Linked DNA regions of Homo sapiens. The protein of the gene in region 1 interacts with the protein of each later gene in a pairwise test. Each region holds a gene or a part of one and is shown on either strand. Other genes may lie near its edges. The genes, in order: FGF1 and TRPV2.

Evidence for each region.
Region 2: the proteins of FGF1 (region 1) and TRPV2 interact in a protein complementation assay, tested with the Homo sapiens proteins (one study listed by IntAct).

What each region holds. Positions count from the first base shown.
Region 1 is NC_000005.10:142,610,790-142,621,825, reverse strand, and holds part of FGF1 (fibroblast growth factor 1 isoform 1 precursor), read left to right. Parts: intron 1-491; exon of another isoform or gene 492-529; intron 530-7,664; 5' UTR 7,665-7,698; coding exon 7,699-7,867; intron 7,868-11,036. UniProt on the Homo sapiens protein: Plays an important role in the regulation of cell survival, cell division, angiogenesis, cell differentiation and cell migration. Functions as a potent mitogen in vitro. Acts as a ligand for FGFR1 and integrins.
Region 2 is NC_000017.11:16,423,819-16,434,854, forward strand, and holds part of TRPV2 (transient receptor potential cation channel subfamily V member 2), read left to right. Parts: intron 1-2,280; coding exon 2,281-2,451; intron 2,452-2,903; coding exon 2,904-3,059; coding exon of another isoform or gene 3,060-3,071; exon of another isoform or gene 3,072-3,072; intron 3,073-3,630; coding exon 3,631-3,729; intron 3,730-4,498; coding exon 4,499-4,569; intron 4,570-4,998; coding exon 4,999-5,164; intron 5,165-5,381; coding exon of another isoform or gene 5,382-5,441; exon of another isoform or gene 5,442-6,501; intron 6,502-7,965; coding exon 7,966-8,032; intron 8,033-8,147; coding exon 8,148-8,482; intron 8,483-9,755; coding exon 9,756-9,880; intron 9,881-11,036. UniProt on the Homo sapiens protein: Calcium-permeable, non-selective cation channel with an outward rectification. Seems to be regulated, at least in part, by IGF1, PDGF and neuropeptide head activator. May transduce physical stimuli in mast cells.

The DNA.
Region 1 (11,036 bases):
TGGGCAAAGGTCCTAGGGTGGGGGGAATCAGAAAATGGAAGGCAAGTTTGGAGGGAGACGTGATGGGAAATGAGGCAGAGGGGGAGTAAGGGCTGAACCTCCCAGAGTCCTGCAGGCCACAGCAAGGCTTTTGTTTTTGTCCCAGAGCAATGGGAAATCACTGAAGAGTTTAGGCAGGGGGATATAGATGGGAATTACACCCAGCGCTGCAGTGAAGTAAAGGAAATGCTGTCTGCTGTTGGGAGAGCACAGGGGAATGAACCCACCTAAACTGGTATATGTGAATTTTAAGAAAGAGTAGGGAGGTTAGGGTTGGGGGATGTGTCCAAATAAGGCTTGCTCGAGGAGGAAATATCCGAAATATCCAGCTAAATTTTTGAAGGGTGAGTGTGACTTAGTCAGACCATGGTGAAAGGGTGGAGGAAAGGAGGGAAGGAGGGAGGAAGGGAGGGAGGGAGAAAGAGAAAGAGAAAAAGAGAGAGAGAAAAAATACTGTTGGCAGCAGCACAATGTTTGGGCTAAGACCTGGGTGAGTATGAGGGTGTAGGGGGACTATAAAAAGAGGCCAATAAGAGAAAAAGTCACAGGGTTAAGAAGGGGTCAAATGATGAGAGCCTCACAGGTCATGGCAGGAGTCTGGGTTTTATCTGGAAAGACAACGGGAAATCAATGACCCAGTCAAAGATCTACAGCAGGGGAGTGATGAGTTAGAATGGTCACTAGCAGCAGAATTGACAGTGGATTGAAAGAAGGCAGTGCTGGAAAGGTGGGACCTGCTGCAGCAGCCCAGGTGAGACAGGTGCTGGGTCTGTGCTAAGGCAACAGAAGTGAGGCTGGAGAAAAGAGGATGGCTTTAGGAGACACTAAAAAGGTAAAACTGAAAGGGCATTTTCACCAACTGAACAGGTGGGAGTGATTTCTATTCTGCCCAAAGAATAGTCTGAATGAAACAAATTTTTCTATTTGGGTTGTCTTGCCTTATGACCTGGTACATGGTCAATTTTCGTAAATGCTCCATGTATCTTTGATAAGAATGATGTTCACTTCATTGTTGGGTACAAGGTTCTTTTATACACTCATCAATTAAGTTTACTAGTTGTGTATTTCAATCTTCTACATATTAATATTTGGTGTCTGTTTGCTCTATCATTTATGACAGAAATGTATTATAAAATCTCCCACCATAATTGCGGAGTTGTCACTTTCTCTTTACATATTTGTCAATTTTTGTTTTATGTATTTTGAGGCTATGTCATTAGATATATACATGTTTGGAATTTGTATATCTTTCTGTTGAATTAATCCACTTATTATGTGGCAATCCCTTTTATCTTTAGTCATTCTTTTTGCCTTAGACCTACTTTATCTGATATTAATATAGCCACACGAGTTTTCAATTTTTTTTTTTGAGACGGAGTCTTGCTCTGTCACCCAGGCTGGAGTGCAGTGGCGCGATCTCAGCTCACTGCAAGCTCCGCCTCCTGGGTTCACACCATTTTCCTCCCTCAGCCTCCCCAGCAGCTGGGACTACAGGCGCCCACCACCATGCCCAGCTAATTTTTTTGTATTTTTAGTAGAGACAGGGTTTCACTGTGTTAGCCAGGATGGTCTCGATCTCCTTACCTCGTGATCCGCCCACCTCGGCCTCCCAAAGTGGTGGGATTACAGGCGTGAGCCACCGCGCCCAGCCGAGTTTTCAATTTTTTTGTTAACATTTGTCTGGTATCTATTTTTCATTCTTTTGCTTTTAACCTCTCTATGTCATTATGTTTTAAATGTGTCTCTTGTAATCAGAGTGCAGATGGAGTTAAAAAAAAAACAGTAGCTAGTAAATTTAGCACATTTACATTTATTGTGATTATACATATATTTGGATTTATTTTGGCCACCTAATTCTGAGCAATTTTTTTACTTTATTTTCTTTTTTTCTTTTTCTAGATTATTTTGGAATAGCACAGGGTTTTGTTTTTTTTTCGTTTTTTGGTTTTTCTTGAGACGGAGTTTCGCTGTTGTTGCTCAGGCTGGAGTGCAATGCCACAATCTCAGCTCATCACAACCTCCGCCTCCCGGGTTCAAGCGATTCTCCTGCCTCAGCCTCCTGAGTAGCTGGGATTACAGGCATGCGCCACCATGCCCGGCTAATTTTGTATTTTTAGTAGAGACGGGGTTTCTCCATGTTCGTCAGGCTGGTCACGAAGATAAGCACAGTTTTATTTATTCCACCTTATCCCCCTTACGCCTACCAGTTGCCGCTTGGACTAAATACATTCTATTTCTTTTCTTTTAGTAGTTACCTTTAACATTTAACATGTATATTTGACTTAACAAAATTTAGTTAATATCTCTAAGGAAGAATTAAGATTTTGGGTGATGCCATTCATAGCCACAGGCAGCAAGGACTTAGAGCATATTTGGAACCAAAGCCAAGGCCTGTTTTGTATATGCTGGGTTTGAGGATACATCCAATTATCACCTTAGCAGGTGTCTGTCTACACATCTACCTTCAGTGGCTTTATATACTCTGCAAAATATCCTCCTTCATGGGTATTCCACATTGCTTACACAGTGACAGGGATTAAAAACAAAACTAAAGGCTGGGCGTGGTGGCTCACGCCTGTAATCCCAGCACTTTGGGAGGCTGAGGCGGGTGGATCACGAGGTCAGGAGATCGAGACCATCTTGGCTAACACGGTGAAACCCCGTCTCTACTAAAAATACAAAAAATTAGCCGGGCGCGGTGGCAGGCGCCTGTAGTCCCAGCTACTCAGGAGGCTGAGGCAGGAGAATGGCGTGAACCTGGGAGGCGGAGCTTGCAGTGAGCCGAGATTGTGCCACTGCAATCCGGCCTGGGCTAAAGAGCGGGACTCCGTCTCAAAAAAAAAAAAAAAAAAAAAAACAAAACAACTAAAAAATAAATGTCAGTGTTTGCCTTCCTTTGATTCTTAACACATCACAGTCTTTCCTTCCAGCTTAGTTTCCAGGGCCAAGCTGGGCACAAATGTCTCCTAGATATAATGGGCCTCGCAAATAACTGTAATAACTATATAGTAACTGTCACTATATTAACTGTTGATAAGCTGAGAACTGAGTCTGAAATGCAGACCAGGATTTTTTCTTACATAACCATGGCTTACCTTTGTGCCTTTCATCTTCTCTGCTATGTTTGTGGCTTACAGCACAGGGGGAGGAGCTTAGCTAATTTCTGCCAAATATGGGAATGAAAAACTTCTATTTTCAAACCAATTAAAAAATTATTTTAAATTAAGCATTTAATCACAGCTGACTTAGATCACACCAGGCTCCAACGAGTTCAACATAACCAGTTACTATTATCTCCTATAGGTCAGGTCCAATTTTTCAAGCGCTGTATCAATATTGTACCCATTTAATCCTTTAGACAACTGTGTGAGAGGCAGGATGAGAATTATTAGAGGAAACATCTCAGAAGGAGTGAATGACTCGCCCGGGTTCCCAGAGCCAAAGTGGTTGCTTACTATCCACATCCTGTTCATGTGTCAGAGTTCAGGTTCCCTTCCAGAGGCCACAGCTGACAAAGTATGTCAGCCTTAACACAGATGTTCCAATAGGCTTGGTGTTCCTCTAACCTGGGTGTCACTGATAAATCAAAAAAATCATCTGGATTTCCTAAAATCTCACCCGTACCCCAAATCTCAAAGGGCTAGGCTTCGTGCACAATGGTGACACGGAGTTCGCTGGGCTTGATCTTCTCCATTTCCCAGCACAACACAGACAATCCCCTCCTCTGACAGCCACTAAAAAGAAAATAGTAACAAGAAGCAGAGCTTATAAATTTCCTTACACTTAATGCCTGATTTCACTTAGTTAATGGATTCATTTATTAAAGCAATTTGTGTAAATCTCCAAGGACCTGCTAACGTTGCTGCCTTATGGTTTTATCACGCCATATACTTCCTTTATTTCTACCCTTTAACAAATAGTGGATTGGCAAGGAACTTTGGACCAACTACCGCTCAAACTATAGGTAAATTACAAATAAAGTTTAAAATAAGGGCTTTTCATGCCCCTGGGGTTTCCTTTAGCAACAAAAAGGGATTTCATTTTTTATATGTTTCAGCTGAGTCATCAATCTCAGTTACCATGGTCTGTCAGTTTCATGTTGACTCCAGGCTTATTTTCAGAAGCCTACATGTCTCCTTCAGGTTTTCAGTTGTGGATCTGAAGGGTTTGGGGAGCCATCTGACATCAGTATAGGCACCCTCATGATGCTCCCTCTCACTGAGGGGATCAGGCAGAGAGCAGAGTTGTGGCCTTGTATGACTGCAGGTACACTGTGGTCAGGAGGGAGGGGCCCCTGAGGACCTGCTGGGCTCTGGCTGAGGTTATTTAGCCAGTGAAAACTCCACAGTGATGAAGTCTGGGCTGCATGGCTCATACACACATGGTCTAGAATCTAGAAGAAAAGCCATTCTTTTTTTTTTTGAGACAGAGTCTCGCTCTGTCGCCCAGGCTGGGGTGCAACGGCGCAATCTTGGCTCACTGCAACTGTCGTCTCCCAGGTTCATGCCATTCTCCTGCCTCAGCCTCCCGAGTAGCTGGGACTACAGGCATGCACCACCAGACCTGGCTAATTTTTGTATTTTTAGTAGAGATGGGTTTTTGCCATGTTGGCCAGACTGGTCTTGAACGCTTGACCTCAGGTGATCCACCCACCTCGGCCTCCCAAAGTGCTAGGATTGCAGGCATGAGCCACCACACCTGGCCTGAAAGGCCATTCTTAAAATGAAATTGCCCCACAATCAGAGGCAAATGGGACCTACACTGGAGGAAGTCCAGAGACAAGGAGAAACAAAATTCGGCCCACCTAAGATTGACAATACAAATGACTATTTGTGCAGTTAAGTGGCAACCACTGGTATATAATTATTGTCTCCTGTACCAAATGAAGTACATAACTTAGGAAGTGCTTGGAAAAAATAAATGAAAGAAAAAAATCATTACCTCTTAGTTGTATTTTAAGGAAGGGGAATCTGGTGATGGTTGAGTGCTAATAGAGAGGTGAGGGATAAAGATATCCACACTGGGAAGAGCTAAATTGCTTTACATTAGAAGTGGATCCAGAAGGGAGTGGAGTGAGGAGTTAGAGTGAGAGGCTGGGTGGAGAGAGGAGTGAGTGGAGAGACAGGAAGAGACAGAGGGACAGAGAGTAAGAGAGCCAGAGGTGGACACAGAAGGACTTAGAGGCTTATGGATAAGAAAGTAAGGTTTGGAAGAGACAGTGAGGATGGAGAGAGATTGTACTATGCAAGGTAAACTCTGCAATCCTCTCTGTGAAATTGACATAAATAAAATTACATATATGTGGTATTATATTTATTTTCTGTCTGTTGCTGTATTATGTGAAAAGAATTAATCGAAGTTTCACCATATGGGATGGAGGGGACATTTGGGATGATCTGACTTTAAATATAGTTTATATGGTATTTGCGAAATTCTCTTTGGGATTCTTGGAGGCACCTCCAACACTAGTTGAAACCAGGGACAATGGCTGGCCCATGTGGTGGCAGAGTGGGAAAAATGTACCAGAAACATTAAAATGCCAGGAGCAGAGAAAACAGATGGAGGCTTCCAACATGAGCCCTCATTTTAAAGTCATAAGGACAAATTATTGTAATTGGTGTCTTGATTTATGATGGAACCATCTCCTATGAGAGCAGCTCCGCACAGCTGCTACAGGCACTGATGGATGGTTAGTGCAGGGAAGGCAGGGTAGCTGCTGGTCTTCCATGATGCTCACGAAGCTGCTGGGGTGGGCTTCTCCTGGAGAAGGTGGAGATGCATGGAGTCCTGTTTCACAGATGGCATGGGGGCAAAAGGAGAGGCTGTTGGTGGAGACTAGCCAACCTTTGGGTCACAAATAAATATATGAATGACAAGTTAATGGTGGCAGATGTACATGTCAGGCAATGGGTAAAAACCCCACTCCTCATAAAAAGACTAGTGTGGATAAAGTCACTAAACCTTTTCATGGTGATCAAGGGCAAATTGGGGCTTTCTGTTCCCAGACTCCTTTTGCGATTCAGCTCCATCGCTTACTAGCTGTTGCCCTTGGGCAGGTCACTGAACATCTGTAAGCTTTGGTTTTATTAAAAATGATGATAATATTAGTGTCCACTTCAAGGGATTATGGTGAGATTACTTGAGATAACCTGTAGCCCAAAATACGTTAATGATGAGGGTGATGATTTTTATTCTAAGACCACTTGATAATCAATATGTATTGATGATCACATTCACTACTCACACTTACAAAGTACAGCTCCCAGGCCGGGCGCGGTGGCTTACGCCTGTAATCCCAGCACTTTGGGAGGCCGAGGCAGGCGGATCACGAGGTCATGAGTTCAAGACCAGCCTGGCCAACATGGTGAAACCCCATCTCTACTAAAAATATAAAAATTAGCCTGGTGTGGTGGCGCATTCCTGTAATCTCAGCTACTTGGGAGGCTAAGGCAGGAGAATTGCTTGAACTGGGACCCGGGAGGCCAAGGTTGCAGTGAGCTGAGATCGTGCTACTGCACTCCATCCTGGGCTACAGAGACTCCGTCTCAGGAGAAAAAAAAAAAAGTGCAGTTCACACGTTAGTTTCCTGGTCTCTTTTTGGCCTCTTTCTTTTCAGTTTTTAGAGTCACCAGCACTTCCTTCTCCTAAATGGTGGGGCAAGTATATGTTTTAACCAATTCTAATGCTCATTGGTTTTGTTTTTTAATCCTTTGAGGTGTAAGTGATGCATTTTCACATTAATAATATAAGTTTGTATGTAGTGGCTACATATAATGTTAAAGGTATATTATATATAATATGGTGGTTTCTGTGTTCTATCTCACATTAGAAAATAGCTAGGATGAAAACAGCCTGCGTGCAAGGGACAGACCCACCTTCTCTGTGCCACATGAAGCTATGTGGAAAGCTGCAGAATGGGCAGGAACCAGGCATAGCCTTCATAATGATCTGTCTCATAACATTTCCTTTGATATGGTATTTGCCCTTTAAAAACCCCACTTACTCCCACTCTGTGCCTTTTTCCCTGGTTCCAGTTCTGTTTCCCCCAGCAAATCCAGAAGCTTCCCTTAACATACTAACCCTTTACTTTCCCTGTTGTGTCCCTGAAAGGCCTCCTGTGCCTTTGGCTGCAGGTCCCGAACGTCCAGGCCATCTGTGCTATCTGCTTCGCGGTACCTCACCAACGCAACGTGAGGGTGGAGGGCAGAACCTTGGTCCTGGCCTCTCAGCTTTTGTGGGTTTCAGCCAGACCCTAGGTGTTATTTTAGTGCAACTTTGGTGTTTAATTTGAGGATGTGTGTGGACCAGAAGGAGGGACCAAAACATGATTCTTTTCCCCATGGTCAGATGATTAAATTTGAAGTTCTAAAAAATGCAGTTTGGTCCAAAGCTGTGTCCAATTGGGAAGAGAGAAAAATGCCCTGGAAACCCCTCCCAGGCCTGGGACCATCCTTCCTTAACCACCAGCCACCTCACAGGCCCGCGGACTGCGGGCATCACCTGGGCAGGCTGTGCTTACTCACTACCCGGGAACCCTGTGCCCTGGAGCTGTCCTTCCTCTCTTCAAAGTGCATTTTGTGCCTTTGCTGGAAGAACCGACTACAGGTTTGTTCAATTTCTTACAGTCTTGAAAGCGCCACAAGCAGCAGCTGCTGAGCCATGGCTGAAGGGGAAATCACCACCTTCACAGCCCTGACCGAGAAGTTTAATCTGCCTCCAGGGAATTACAAGAAGCCCAAACTCCTCTACTGTAGCAACGGGGGCCACTTCCTGAGGATCCTTCCGGATGGCACAGTGGATGGGACAAGGGACAGGAGCGACCAGCACAGTAAGCCCATCTCTATGGCACCCCCCTTCCCTTTCTGACATCTTCTGTAGTCAAGGTGGGAGGAAGGTGCACATTTAAGTACAGGTACTTGCTTCTCCAAGGTTCTATTCAGGCATGACACATTCAGAGGTGGAGTCACATAAATGCGTAAAATGTCTGGGTTTAGAAAATAGGGACTTGTGGGGGCCACCACTTACCCAAACGTGTCCTATTTCAAGTTTTTTAAAGCACTCTCTGCTGACCCAACAGAACGGGCTGCCGGTGCTCAATTGCTGTATGTTTTCCCAGGTTTCTGTAACTAGTGAAAGATCTGGCCCCGAAGGCTAGTCAGGGGCCTGCACGCTTCATGATGGGATGAACCAGACAGGCATGGTGGTAAATCCTGCACAGAGATGTGGGCTCCGTTTCAAGTCAACTGACTCTCCTGGTTATGTTTCCACTGGGCTTGATTTGTGAAATCCCAGTTCATAATCGTAGTCTTACACATCATAAATTATGCAGCTTTCCCTCTGCGTATCACGCAGATGTGGCTGTGGTAACCAGCAGTGGTAAAGTCATTCTCCAGACCTTATAGAAACTGGAGAGTAGGAGCGACTAGCGCCAAATGCTGAATATCTCTTCCAGGACTTCCTGGCAGCCCGGTTCTCAGAGGTGTTGACAAATGAAGGTATGACTCTAGAGAAAAGAATCTTCTTGACTATCTAAGTATAAAAAAATCTCTTCCTTCTGCTTTGGTACTTCTGGCATTGGTGTGTATGTTTGATATTAGGTGTCCAGGTCCTATCGTGATGTTATCTGAGATTCCCTGAGTCCCACTGCAGCATCAGAGGTTACAAAGAAGCCTAAAGTCAGATCCAGTCCCTGCTTAGAGGGTCAGCAATCTCAAGAGTCAAACTTGCCACAAATCAAGAGAAGGAAAATCAGGAGACATAGAAGAAGACAGGCAGGAAGGAAGTTTCTGTAGGACTGGCTTCAAAATGCAATGCAAAACACTCACTTTGACATGATGGTTTATACATCAGGTGGTCTTAATTATTCATGGACCATGCACCAGAGGTTGCAGGCTCTAAGAACAAATGACCACTTCGCTGGTGCTCACGCTGTACCCTCAGATGCACAGGTAATGGGGATGGATGCTGGCGTTTACACGAGGTGACGTTGTTCCTTCCTCCCCACCCACTGCACAGACCCTGGAGATGAGGAGCAGGAAGGCTGAGGCTGGGGCTTGCAGCTGCAGAATTAGCTCTTTTGGGCTTTGTTTTGATGGCTTATCTTCAAATGGGCTTGCTGAATGTCTTATACTCAGTGAAAAACAGGTGTCAGAATGAGGCAAAAAAAAAAGACTCTAGTTTGTTAAATAGCATACATAAGCAATATTCACTGCAAATTAGCAAACTTAGATTGTAGTCCATTGTGTCAGGCATGATACACAACTCACGTGATCTGCCCCACACAACACGAACAAGCTTTAATTCCTCTGGGTTTTAAGTGTTCCTAATACGTCTTAACCAATTTTCTGAAAAAGTAGGGAATGCTCTCCGGTCCTCAGAACCCAAGAGGAAAGACAAACTTCATGATATGTTCCTTGGGGTTAAGCTAGCTCTTCTGGAAACCTTGACTTCTGGAGTAAAAAAAGGCTCCAATACTGGAATTTCTGTAGCAATGGAAAATGGCTTAACTGTTGCCATTCCATCATTAGCACAACAGACTGCACTCTGGGTGTGTAACACTGGCACAACTTCTGGAGTCCACAGTGGATTTGGCCGCCTGACTTAAGATGTCAGGAGCCCCTAGAAAGCAGCACAACGTAGCCCTGGGAGTGCAGGTGAGGATTTCTGCATTCAAGGAATGCCAGATTATTTTCCAAGTGAACTTGGGCAACTGCACCTTTCACCCTCACTTTTCTCATTTGTACAAAAAGAATACTAATATTCCTTGCCTCACAGGTTTCTTGGGAGGGTTAAATGAGATAATATAGTGAGAGTTCTTGGCACAGTGGCTGGCACAGAGGAACAGCACAGCACGTGTTGGTTCATATTGCAGTTATCATCATCAAGCTTTCCATATAATCAGCCTAGCATATGGTAACACAGGGTCGTATTGAAGGACCTTCCAGACTCCTCTTTTTAACAGTACTGCCACCCAGGAAAGTCAAGGGGCTAGATGCAGGCTTAGATTCAGCATCTCTCTGCCAACACTCGGAGTTGTTGTGTGGGCCTATTATTTGCTTACTCTGGAACTAAGAACAAGGACCAAGAGGACAGAGATCAGAGTAAGTGGGGTGGGTGGCCAGAAGCCCATCCGTGTACCTGTCAGTACTGGAACTGGATATTCCACTGAAGAGTCAGCAGGCTCGAGTTCAAGCCTACTCTGCCCCTTTCTACCTGGAGCAGCCCTGGACAATTAACGTTCTTGCCATTATGCATTCTTTCTGTTTGCAAACTCTGCGAAAGAAGCTTCAAGCCCCCCAGCCCTGGGACGCTTCCAGTCCTTTCCTGACTAGAAATTGAAGTGTCTCTAGTGTTCCCAGATAATTTTCAGGAAAATCATTTAGTCTCGCTGAGACTCAGTTTCCTCACCTGTGGAATGGGAATGGCAGCATTGCCCAGTGTGCCTCACAAGGGCGAAACTTCTATTTACTAGGGTTCTGCAGGTGAGAGGAGTCCTGGGCACGGATGTACTCCCTGAATGTGGTTCTGTTGCCCTCTTCTGCCCAGTGGTGGTACTGCCAGAGCCCTTCTGAGTTTCAAGGGTTATTCAGAAACAGAATTGCCTCGGCCAGGCATGAGACGGATGCTCCCTGACTAAATGTGATCCACACGGCCTGGCAAGGAGATATTTTTGATTCCTTGATCACTAGTTTGAGCATAATTAGAGACTGAAGTGACAGAGTCACACGTTAAGACTTCCTTCAGAAAGAGCGTTTCTAAAAGCCAATCGAAAAATTTAAACAAATCACACAAGATAGAACCGTATGCCTTTGAGCTCTACAAGGCAGAAATAACTCCTTTCACGGCTTCTCTTTGTCCCCAAGTCATTGATCATTCCTGGGCAAATGTATCTTCTTCCTACCTCTAGGAGAATGAGTTTCCAAGTACCTAACCTTCCTTATAGTGGTATAACCCTAGGGCAGATGCTTGTGTGTGGGCTGTTCTAATAGAGACCTGAG
Region 2 (11,036 bases), on another chromosome or scaffold:
ATCCCAAAATTTCTGCAGAAAGAACCCAGGGGGTGGTGAAGAGCAGTGGCTTCTCTGCTTTTCAATGGAACACTCCTGTTAGTAAGAAAATTTTCAGTATGTACCTCTGATATATTTCTGTTTATTTATAAATTGCATATGAACTACTGAATATATTACATTATAAAACATTGAGATTTTTTTTTTTTGAGACGGTGTTTCGCTCTTGTTGCCCAGGCTGGAGTGCAATGGTGCGACCTCGGCTCACCGCAACCTCTGCTTCCCAGGTTCAAGCGATTCTCCTGCCTCAGCCTCCCAAGTAGCTGGGATTACAGGCATGTGCCACCACACCCAGCTAATTTTGTTTTTTTTTTTTTTGAGACGGACCCTCGCTCTGTCACCCAGGCTGGAGTGCAGTGACATGATCTCGGCTCACTGCAACCTCTGCCTCCCAGGTTCAAGCAATTCTCCTGCCTCAGCCCCCTGAGTAGCTGGGATTACAGGCACCCACCACCATGCCTGGCTAATTTTTTTTTTGTATTTTCAGTAAAGAGGGGTTTCACCATGTTGGTCAGGCTGGTCTTGAACTCCTGACCTCGTGATCCACCCGCTTCGGCCTCCCAAAGTGCTGGGATTACAGGCACGCGCCACTGCACCCAGCTAATTTTTTGTATTTTTAGTAGAGATGGGGTTTCACCATGTTGGCCAGGCTGGTCTTGAACTCCTGACCTCAGGTGATCTGCCCACCTCGGCCTCCCAAAGTGCTGGGATTACAGGTGTGAGCCATGGCACCCGGCCAAACATTGGGAATTTTTAAAAGTCGTTTGTGTTTCTTTATTAAGAGATAGCCTTTTTATATCTTTTGCCTATTTTGCTATTCTGTTTCTGCATATTTATTGATAACTTTATAATGAATTTAGTATTTTGTCTACCATAGCACTTGTAAAATTTCTCCTAGTTCATCATTTGTCTTTTGAATTTTATGTTTTTTTTGCTATACAGGATTTAAAAATTTTTATAATCTGCAAGTGTGACTATCTTTTCCTTTAAGGTTCCATGGTTTTGCTATTGTCTAATTCCTGCTACAAGATTTTATATATATAATACATATTATATGTACATAATATATGTTATAACTATTATACATTATATTATACATTATAATTATATATAGTATATATATAATCTTCATACCCATATTTTCTTCCAAACTTTTGCAGCTGCATTTTTTTTTTTTTTTTTTTGAGATGGAGTTTCGCTCTTGTTGCCCAGGCTGGAGTACAATGGCGCGATCTCGGCTAACTGCAACCTCCGCCTCCGGAGTTCAAGCGATTCTCTTGCCTCAGCCTCCCGAGTAGCTGGGATTACAGGCATGTGCCACCACGCCCGGCTAATTTTGTATTTTTAGTAGAGACGGGGTTTCTCCATGTTGGTCAGGCTGGTCTCAAACTCCCGACCTCTGGTGATCCACCTGCCTCAGCCTCCCAAAGTGCTGAGATTACAGGCATGAGCCGAAACGCCCAGCCTGCAGCTGCATTTTTAATGCCTAGAGCTTTGACTAGCTGGAAGTTATTCTGGTAGGAAGAGTAAACATGAGGCAGCCCCCACTTTGTTCCAGATAGCTTACCAATGGCCTGTTCCAAATAGCTTTTGCCAATAGCTCACCAGGGCTGGCCTCATGGGCTTACAGTGGAGATTTTTGAAAGATTAAGGAAACGATAAACATAAATAGAAGTTTTAACCCTTTTTCGCTGCCCTCCCAAGTTTTTTGGAGTGCTCCCTGGGGTGTGTGAACCTCACTTTCTTGTCTAGAGGCACTGCTGTGTGGCCTATGAAAGCAGTGTCCTGATCTGTTCCTCCTTTCCCATTCCTCACGCGTGAAACCAGACTGCTTCCTAACCTGTTTGGATTAGGGACCACTTTCTAGTCTGTTGAAAATTCTAGATTCTGACCGCGAAAGTGCACACACAGATACAGCTAGTAGACTCTGATCTCAGGGGCCTCAAGGACCCCAGGGCTAGGGATCAATCTGCCATTTGAGGAGTTCAAGGAAGGCCACAGGGCAGGGGAGGGGAAGGAAGAGCCAGGCTGGCTGGCAGGCTGGGGCAGATGTGGCTGGGTGCGTGTGTGTGTTTAAGAGTTTAGACAAACAAGGACCTGCGTGTATGGGGGTACGTGCACGTGTCAGCTGCAGCTCTGCAGACCGTGGGCAGCTGCTGAGTCCTGGGTGTTTCCCAGCCTTGGCCCAGGATCAGTGCCAGGAAGGGACCATGAATGCAAGCTCATATGGCCACCCTGCAGATTTTCAGGCACATCCTGCAGCGGGAGTTTTCAGGACTGAGCCACCTTTCCCGAAAGTTCACCGAGTGGTGCTATGGGCCTGTCCGGGTGTCGCTGTATGACCTGGCTTCTGTGGACAGCTGTGAGGAGAACTCAGTGCTGGAGATCATTGCCTTTCATTGCAAGAGCCCGGTGAGCCCACAGGAGCATGGGTGCACGCAGAGGACCCAGCAGAGTTTCCAGCAAGGTCCACAAATTGGGGCTGCCTGCTGGACCATATCTGCCCCATTCCTGTGCCAGTGGGGGTGTGGCTGCATGTCCCAGCAGGCACGACCCTGACCATGGCCACCGGGCCCATACTCAATCCATACTCTAGTCCCATCCAAGACGGGGATCATGCCAAGGGCCTCGTGGCAACCATCCGGGTCCTCTCTGTTAACCAGCATCTCATTTGGAGGGCAAGCCCCTTAGTCACACTGTAGCTGGGAGGGTTGGCGTGAGGTCCTTTGGGGCTCCTGGGGTGTGGAAGCCTGCTCCCTGTCCTCTCTCCTCATTTCCTGGGCCCTTGCTTTGATCTTGACATGGAGTGGGCAGCCTATTTGCACTTGTTGAGTGTACCCATGGCTCTCCCCTCCCCACCCCAGCACCGACACCGAATGGTCGTTTTGGAGCCCCTGAACAAACTGCTGCAGGCGAAATGGGATCTGCTCATCCCCAAGTTCTTCTTAAACTTCCTGTGTAATCTGATCTACATGTTCATCTTCACCGCTGTTGCCTACCATCAGCCTACCCTGAAGAAGGCAAGGGCGTGAGGTTTGGGGGGGCACATCTTGGGGGAGGCCTGCTTGAAACAACCCTGGGGGAAGATGGGGCAGTAATAGTGCTGAGGCATGGGCTGCTGGAGTGACATTCCCAAGCTTATGGGAGCCAGCACTGCAGTACTAACGGTGATACAGTGAAGATTTGCTGAGTGCTCACTGTATGTGAAAAAGGATTCTAGGTGATGGACATGTGTTGACTAATTAATGTGCCCCAAAACCCTTGAGATGGTGAATTATAATCACCCCCAGTTTATAGTAGAGGGAAGGGAGGCACAGAGAGGTTAAGTAACTTGCCCAGGGTCACACAGAATGGAAGTGGTGTGGAGAGGGAATCTGAATCCAGGGAGTCTGGCTTCAGACCCTACACTGAAATGCTACACAATGTGCCTCTCAGGATCCAGGGGTCCTTCCCTGGAGCCCATGTTCCCATGCCGTTCTGAGGAGCCTCTCCACAGCTCAGGCTCAGAGTAGGCCCTCAGCTTCAGCTCTGAAGGGTGAGCTGTTCGAGAGAGGACCCAAGGCCCTAGGTCTCATCTGAGTGTGTCTTCAGCAGGCCGCCCCTCACCTGAAAGCGGAGGTTGGAAACTCCATGCTGCTGACGGGCCACATCCTTATCCTGCTAGGGGGGATCTACCTCCTCGTGGGCCAGGTGAGTGCCCCTCCCCTTCTCCTACCAAGAAGCAAACCTAGAATTCTGCTTCAGGGGGCTTAGAGAAAGTTAGCTGCATCCCCTCACTGACAATACCCAGTCCCACCCAGAGCAACCAGCCTCACTGAAGCTGAGGGCCAGAGGTTCTGGCCTTGCCTTCTGAGTCCCCAGGAACCCCTCTGCTGTGCTTTTGGGGTTCCTTGGGGTAGCAGATAGCTTCTCTGATTCCTTGGCAGTACAGACTCTGCTCCCCCAGGAATGGAGCTGGAAGCGCCTGCCCCTAGCCAGGCCCCTCGGCTGGGAAGCTCCCCTCTTGGGGAGCACAGAGACCAGAGGTAGGTGGGGTTCAGGCTATTTCCCCCAGTAGGGCCTCTTCAGTGGGAAATGCTGTAAGCCTGCAGGACACAGGCTGGACACCAAGACATTGGGACCTCCGCAGAGTGGGCAGAACTTGGGCACCAAACGCAGGTTGGCTGGGGTATGGGTGCTCCCTGTGAGGCCAGGGAGAAGGGAAGGGAAAGGTGCTCTTCCCCTTCCTGCATGCAGTGCACAGGCTCTTCACCTGCACCCCCCGGCCTTGCCTAGGTGGCTGCTCTTTCTGGAAAGAAAGTCCCAAGCTATCTCAGCTATCAGAAGTATTCATGAGTCCCCCAAAACCAAAGCTGCTGACTTAGCTCTAGCCTGGGTGGCAGGCTCCCACTCAGCCAGGCCAGCAGGGGGCATGCGGGAGAGCAGGTTTCACAGCCCTCTGTCCTCCCTTCCTCCGCAGCTGTGGTACTTCTGGCGGCGCCACGTGTTCATCTGGATCTCGTTCATAGACAGCTACTTTGAAATCCTCTTGTACGTGGGTTCTCACTCCTCCTTCTCTCAACTGTCTCTGAGGTCTGGAAGGGGCAGTTGTGGCAGAAGGCACCAGGTTGGCTTTAGAGGCGAGGACACGGGGCCCAGGAAGTCGGGATCTGTGTACAGGCCAGTCCCAGGAGTCTGGGCTGCCGTCCAGCCTGGGGCCCCTTGTGCTCCCATCACTGTAGATGGTGATAGTGACATTTACTAGGCCTCGGCACATACCTGTTTCACTTAGTCCTTGAAAACACTCTATGAGTCAGGCATCATTATTATTATGCCCATTTTACAGTGGGAGGGAACTGAGGCCCACAGAGGTTAAATGTCTTGCCTAAGATGGAGGTCAGGACCTTGGTCAGCATAGGCCAGTGGGGGCTCAGGGAGCCAAGTGGCCCGCAAGCCCACCTGGATTCTGCTCCCACACAGCCTGTTCCAGGCCCTGCTCACAGTGGTGTCCCAGGTGCTGTGTTTCCTGGCCATCGAGTGGTACCTGCCCCTGCTTGTGTCTGCGCTGGTGCTGGGCTGGCTGAACCTGCTTTACTATACACGTGGCTTCCAGCACACAGGCATCTACAGTGTCATGATCCAGAAGGTGAGAGAAGGGGGTGGCCCACCGGGACTCTTTTGGCCTCATCAGGCAAGAAGAGCCTTCCTCCACAGCTATCCTAGGCAGAGGAGGGCATGTGTACATCTGCCTGTGCGCCAGCACTCAGATGCTTGCTGGATGGAAGCTTAAGTACAGGCCTGCACATACCTCTCTCAGGGCTCTGCATGCACACGCAAACAAACGTACATATGTGTGTTTGCAGGTGTCCACACGGGAGCATGTGCATCCTTCCACAAGCAAGGAGCAAAGAATATGTGCATAAGCTCATCTGCATGTCTGTGTCCTGCGATGTGTGGGCGCGGGCATGTAACTGCATTCATTTATGTATTCAGCGCATGTTTAGGGAGTGCCTACTGTGGGCCGGGCCCTGTTCTAGGTGTTGGGAATATAGCAGAGAACAGAACAAGTCCTTGCTCCCCTGAAGCTGATGTTCTGGTGGGAGGAAATGAAAACCTTAAGAAAACAACTGAGAACATTCCACACTGCTAAATTCTATGAAGGAAAAAAAAGCACAGGACAATGTGATGCAGAATGGCTGGGACCAAGTACCCTTTAGATGGGATGGTCTGGGAAGCCTCTCTAAAGAGGGGATGTTTAAGTTGAGACCTGAAAGAATGATTCAGCCACAGCAGGGTGAAGAGGAGATATTCTCAGCAGAGGGCACAGCAGTGGCTGCCACGAGCCAGAAGGAGCTTGGGGTGCTTGGGACAGGGTGAGGAGGCTAGGTGGCTGGGGAGATGGCAGGAGGGTGGAGGTGAGGAGGTTGGGAGGAAGGGAAGGGCCAGGGGCCCCTTCCACGGGGAGGGATTTGGAGGTCCCCAGAGGCTTTTTTTTTTTTAATTGTAGTAAAATACACCTAACATGGAACTTTTTTTTTTTTCTTTGAGATGGAGTCTCACTCTTGTTACCTAGGCTAGAGTGCAATGGCACCATCTCAGCTCACTGCAAACCCCTACTCCTGGGTTCAAGCGATTCTCCTGCCTCAGCCTCCCGTATGGCTGGGGTTGCAGGCACCCACCACCATGCCCGGCTAATTTTTGTATTTTTAGTAGAGACAGGTTTTCACCACGTTGGCCAGGCTGGTCTCAAACTCCTGACCTCAGGTGATCCGCCTGCCTTGGCCTCCCAAAGTGCTGGGATTACAGGCATGAGCTACTGCGCCTGGCCCATTTTAACCTTTTTTTTTTAAAGTATACAGCTAAGTGTCATTAAGTACATTCACACTGTTGTATAACCATCACCACCATCCAACTCCAGAACTTTCTTGTCATCCCAAACTGAAACTCAACACCCATTAAACAACTCCCCATTCCCTTCCCCCAGTCCCTGGAAGCCACCATTCTAATTTCTGTTTCTACGAATTTGATGACCATAGCTACATCGTAGAAGTGGAATCATACAGTATTTGTCCTTTAATGTCTGGCTTATTTTACTCAGTATAATGTCCTCAAGGATCAGCCATGTTGTAGCATGTGTCAGAAATGCCTTCCTTTTTTTTTTTTTTTTGAGATGGAGTCTTGCTCTGTTGCCCAGGCTGGAGTGCAGTGATGCAATCTTGGCTCACTGCAACCTCCGCCACCCAGGTTCAAGCGATTCTCCTGCCTCAGCCTCCCGAGTAGCTGGGACTACAGGCATGTGTCACCACATCCGGCAAATTTTTTTTATTTTTAGTAGAGACGGAGTTTTGCCACGTTGGCCAGGATGGTCTTGAACTCCTGACCTCAGGTGATCCACCCACCTTGGCTTCCCAAAGTGCTGGGATTGCAGGCTGAGCCATCACGCCCAGCCAATTCCTTCCTTTGTAAGGCTGAATAATATCCCATTGTGTAGATACACCACATTTTGTGCGTCCATTCATCTGTCGATCCAGTCACCTGTTGCTTCCACCTTTTGACCATTGTGAATAATGCTGCTACGAACAAGGGTGTAAAAGTATCTGTTAGAGTCCCTGCTTTCAATTCTTTTGGGCATATACATACCCAGAAGTGGAATTGCTGGGTCATACAGTAGTTCTATATTTTATTTTGTGACCCTGGAAGGTTTTTTTTTTTTGTTTTTTGTTTTTTGTTTTTTGAGATGGGACTCATTCAGTCACCCAGGCTGGAGTGCGGTGACACGATCATAGCTCATTGCCGCCTTGACATTCTGGGCTCAAGCAATCCTCCTGTCTCAGCCTCCTGAGTAGCTGGCACTGTAGGCTTGTGCCACCATGCCCAGCTACTGGAAAGTTTTAAGCAGGAAAACAATGTGATCTGAGACATATATATATATATATATATATATATATATACATATTTTTTTTTTTTTTTTTTTTGAGACGAAGTCTCACTCTGTAGCCCAGGCTGGAGTGCAGTGGTGTGATCTCGGCTCACCACAACCTCTGCCTCCTGGGTTCAAGTGATTCTCCTGCCTCAGCCTCCTGAGTAGCTGGGATTACAAGCACAGGCACACCACTGCACCTGGCTAATTTTTTGTATTTTTAGTAGAAACGCGGTTTCACCATGTTGGCCAGGCTGGTCTTGAACTCCCAACCTCAGGTAATCTGCCCGCCTCAGCCTCCCAAAGTGCTAGGATTATAGGCATGAGCCACCGCACCCAGCCAGATCTGAGATATATTTTTAAAAGACTCCTCTGCTCGGTGTGGCTCCACAGGCCCACATATGCATATGTATGTGTGCGTATGTGCAGTGTACACGGGAACCATGCTGCTGTGGGTGAGGCAGGGTTCTGGGGTCGTGACTGGTGGCCCAGCTACCCACCCTGGCCCCTGGGCACATGTGTTCCAGGTCATCCTGCGGGACCTGCTGCGCTTCCTTCTGATCTACTTAGTCTTCCTTTTCGGCTTCGCTGTAGGTAAAGGCTCCCTCCGGCCCCCTCCCCCTTCCCCACGTTCCTTGTCCACCCTGTACACTCCCAAGGCTGCCCACCGGTCTCCTGGGCTAAGGACCCCTCTCCCTTCATCCCATAGCCCTGGTGAGCCTGAGCCAGGAGGCTTGGCGCCCCGAAGCTCCTACAGGCCCCAATGCCACAGAGTCAGTGCAGCCCATGGAGGGACAGGAGGACGAGGGCAACGGGGCCCAGTACAGGGGTATCCTGGAAGCCTCCTTGGAGCTCTTCAAATTCACCATCGGCATGGGCGAGCTGGCCTTCCAGGAGCAGCTGCACTTCCGCGGCATGGTGCTGCTGCTGCTGCTGGCCTACGTGCTGCTCACCTACATCCTGCTGCTCAACATGCTCATCGCCCTCATGAGCGAGACCGTCAACAGTGTCGCCACTGACAGCTGGAGCATCTGGAAGCTGCAGGTGCCACCAGAGAGGCTCCCTGCCCCCACCCCACCCCACACTCAGGCGGTGGGGAGTGCTCCGGACCCTGCGGAGCTGGGCCTTCCCTAGCCAGGAGATGCCGGGTTGGGCAGCTCTACCTTGTCAGTCTTCCTCTTCCTTTTTTTTTTTTTTTTCTGGAGACAAGGTCTTGCTCTGTCACCCAGGCTGGAGTGCAGTGGCACGATCACAGCTCAATGCAGCCTCGGCCTCCTGAGCTCAAGTGATCCTCCTTCCTCAGCCTCCTGAGTAGCTGGGGTTACAGGCACCTGCCACCACACTTGGCTAATATTTTTATTTTTTGTAGAGAAGAAGGTCTCACTATGTTGCCCCGGCCTCAGGTGATCCTCCCACCTTTGCCTCCCAAAGTGCTGAGATTACTCCCACCTCCTTTAAGCTCATAGATGTACTTAGGACAGTGCCCAGCACCAAGCAGGTGCTCAATGTGCTACCAGCTACTCTTATCATCATTGCTGTCCAGTGTTTCTTTTTTTTTTTTTTTTGAGTCAAGAGTTTTGCTCTTGTTGCCCGGGCTGGAGTGCAATGGTGCAATCTTGGCTCACTGCCACCTTTGTCTCCTGGGTTCAAGCGATTCTCCTGCCTCAGCCTCCCAAGTACCTAGGATTACAGGCATGTGCCACCACACCCCACTAATTTTTTGTATTTAGTAGAGATAAGGTTTCACCATGTTGGTCAAGCTGGTCTTGAACTCCTGACCTCAGGTGATACACCTGCCTCGGCCTCCCAAAGTGCTGGCATTACAGGCATGAGCCACCATGCCCCACCCTGCTGCCAATTCATTGTTGATCTTGGGGAAGCCCCTTATCTCCTCTGAGCCTTGGTGCCCTCCTCTGCAAGGTTCTGTGCCCCACCTGACTCACTGGTGTGCCTCTGGGCAGGCACATGTGTGGGGTGAGCAAATGAAGTTCTGTTCCTGGTGGTGTGGCAATCTGGAGCCTGGAACGATGTAAGAGCAAGTAGCTGTCCAGTACTCATAAGGTACAGACTTCCCATCAGCTGTCTGAGGCACTTTGTCCTCAGTCTACAAATGGGGAAACTGAGATGCAGAGAGGCTGAGGGCCCAACCCCACACAGGTAACCGGATGTTGGAGCCAGATTCGAATCCGCGTGTTTAGTTGACTTCGCGTTATACTGTGAAGTGCTGCGCGGCACTTCCCTGCTCCGCTTGCCTTGTGTGCCTTTGCCCCCAGGCAGGGTCCCAGGACGTTCTGTCTGATGCATCCTTTGTCCCCAGAAAGCCATCTCTGTCCTGGAGATGGAGAATGGCTATTGGTGGTGCAGGAAGAAGCAGCGGGCAGGTGTGATGCTGACCGTTGGCACTAAGCCAGATGGCAGCCCCGATGAGCGCTGGTGCTTCAGGTGAGTGAGTGGTGGGAGGGTCTCCTGGGGGCCTTGCTGTCCAGCAATCCCTGGGGCCCCCCTGCAGTGCAGGGCACAGCTGCCAGGAGCCAGGTCTGGTGGGAAGGGCAGGCCCAAAGAGCACCAGGGACTGAGCCTGAGCAGGTGAGGTCAGGGGTCTGGATCTCACAAGCCATGGCTGCCACATGACTGGCCATCTGCCTGTCCCAGTGGCTTAAACTGAAGGTCCCCTCCTGGTGATCTCAGACTCCTCCTTGTAGCCTGAAATGTGTTACGGTAAGGAGGCCAAGAAGTCAGAGGGACCCTTGGGTTGCTAGCACTCTAGCATTGCCCTGGCTGCTCTGTGTCCCCCCACCCCCAATTCTGCCAGCCTGATCTCTGAGCTACAACCCCTTCCATGGAGAACATGCCCTTCTGTGTCCAGGAAAGGCTGGGACACTGGGAGAGGGAACCTAGTGACAAACACACAGCTAAAAACAGACACTGTCGGCCGGGTGCAGTGGCTCATGCCTGTAATCCCAGCACTTTGGGAGGCCGAGGCGGGCAAATCACGAGGTCAGGAGATCGAGACCATCCTGGCTAACACAGTGAAACCCCATCTCTACTAAAAATACAAAAAAGTAGCCGGGCGTGGTGGCGGGCGCCTGTAGTCCCAGCTACTCAGGAGGCCGACGCAGGAGAATGGCATGAACCTGGGAGGCGGAGCTTGCAGTGAGCTGAGATCGCACCACTGCACTCCAGCCTGGGCGACAGAGCGAGACTCCATCTCAAAAAAAAAAAAAAAAAGAAAACAACAGCAACAAAAAAAACAGACACTGTCGTGAGGCAGCAGATGAGCAGAGAGACGGAGTCTTGGGCATGAGGAGCAGCCATGATAGGCCCCAGAACCCGGAAGCACAGATACACCTGATCTGAATTCCTCTTCTCTGGTTGTTCTGGGCAACCCAGGCTGCTGTGAACAGCCAGAAGCGATGGATGCTGATTCCTGCAAGTGAGCACCTGCCTCACAGGACAGGGCTCCAAGTGGGTGGCCCAGAACCCTGCAGAGAAAAAGCCTGTCCTCCTCAGGGCCTCTGTGTCCACCAGAGCATCTCTGCATAGTCTCCCAATTTGGGGGGCCACGCCCCTCTCCGGGGTGGGAGGGGAGGCGGTCAAA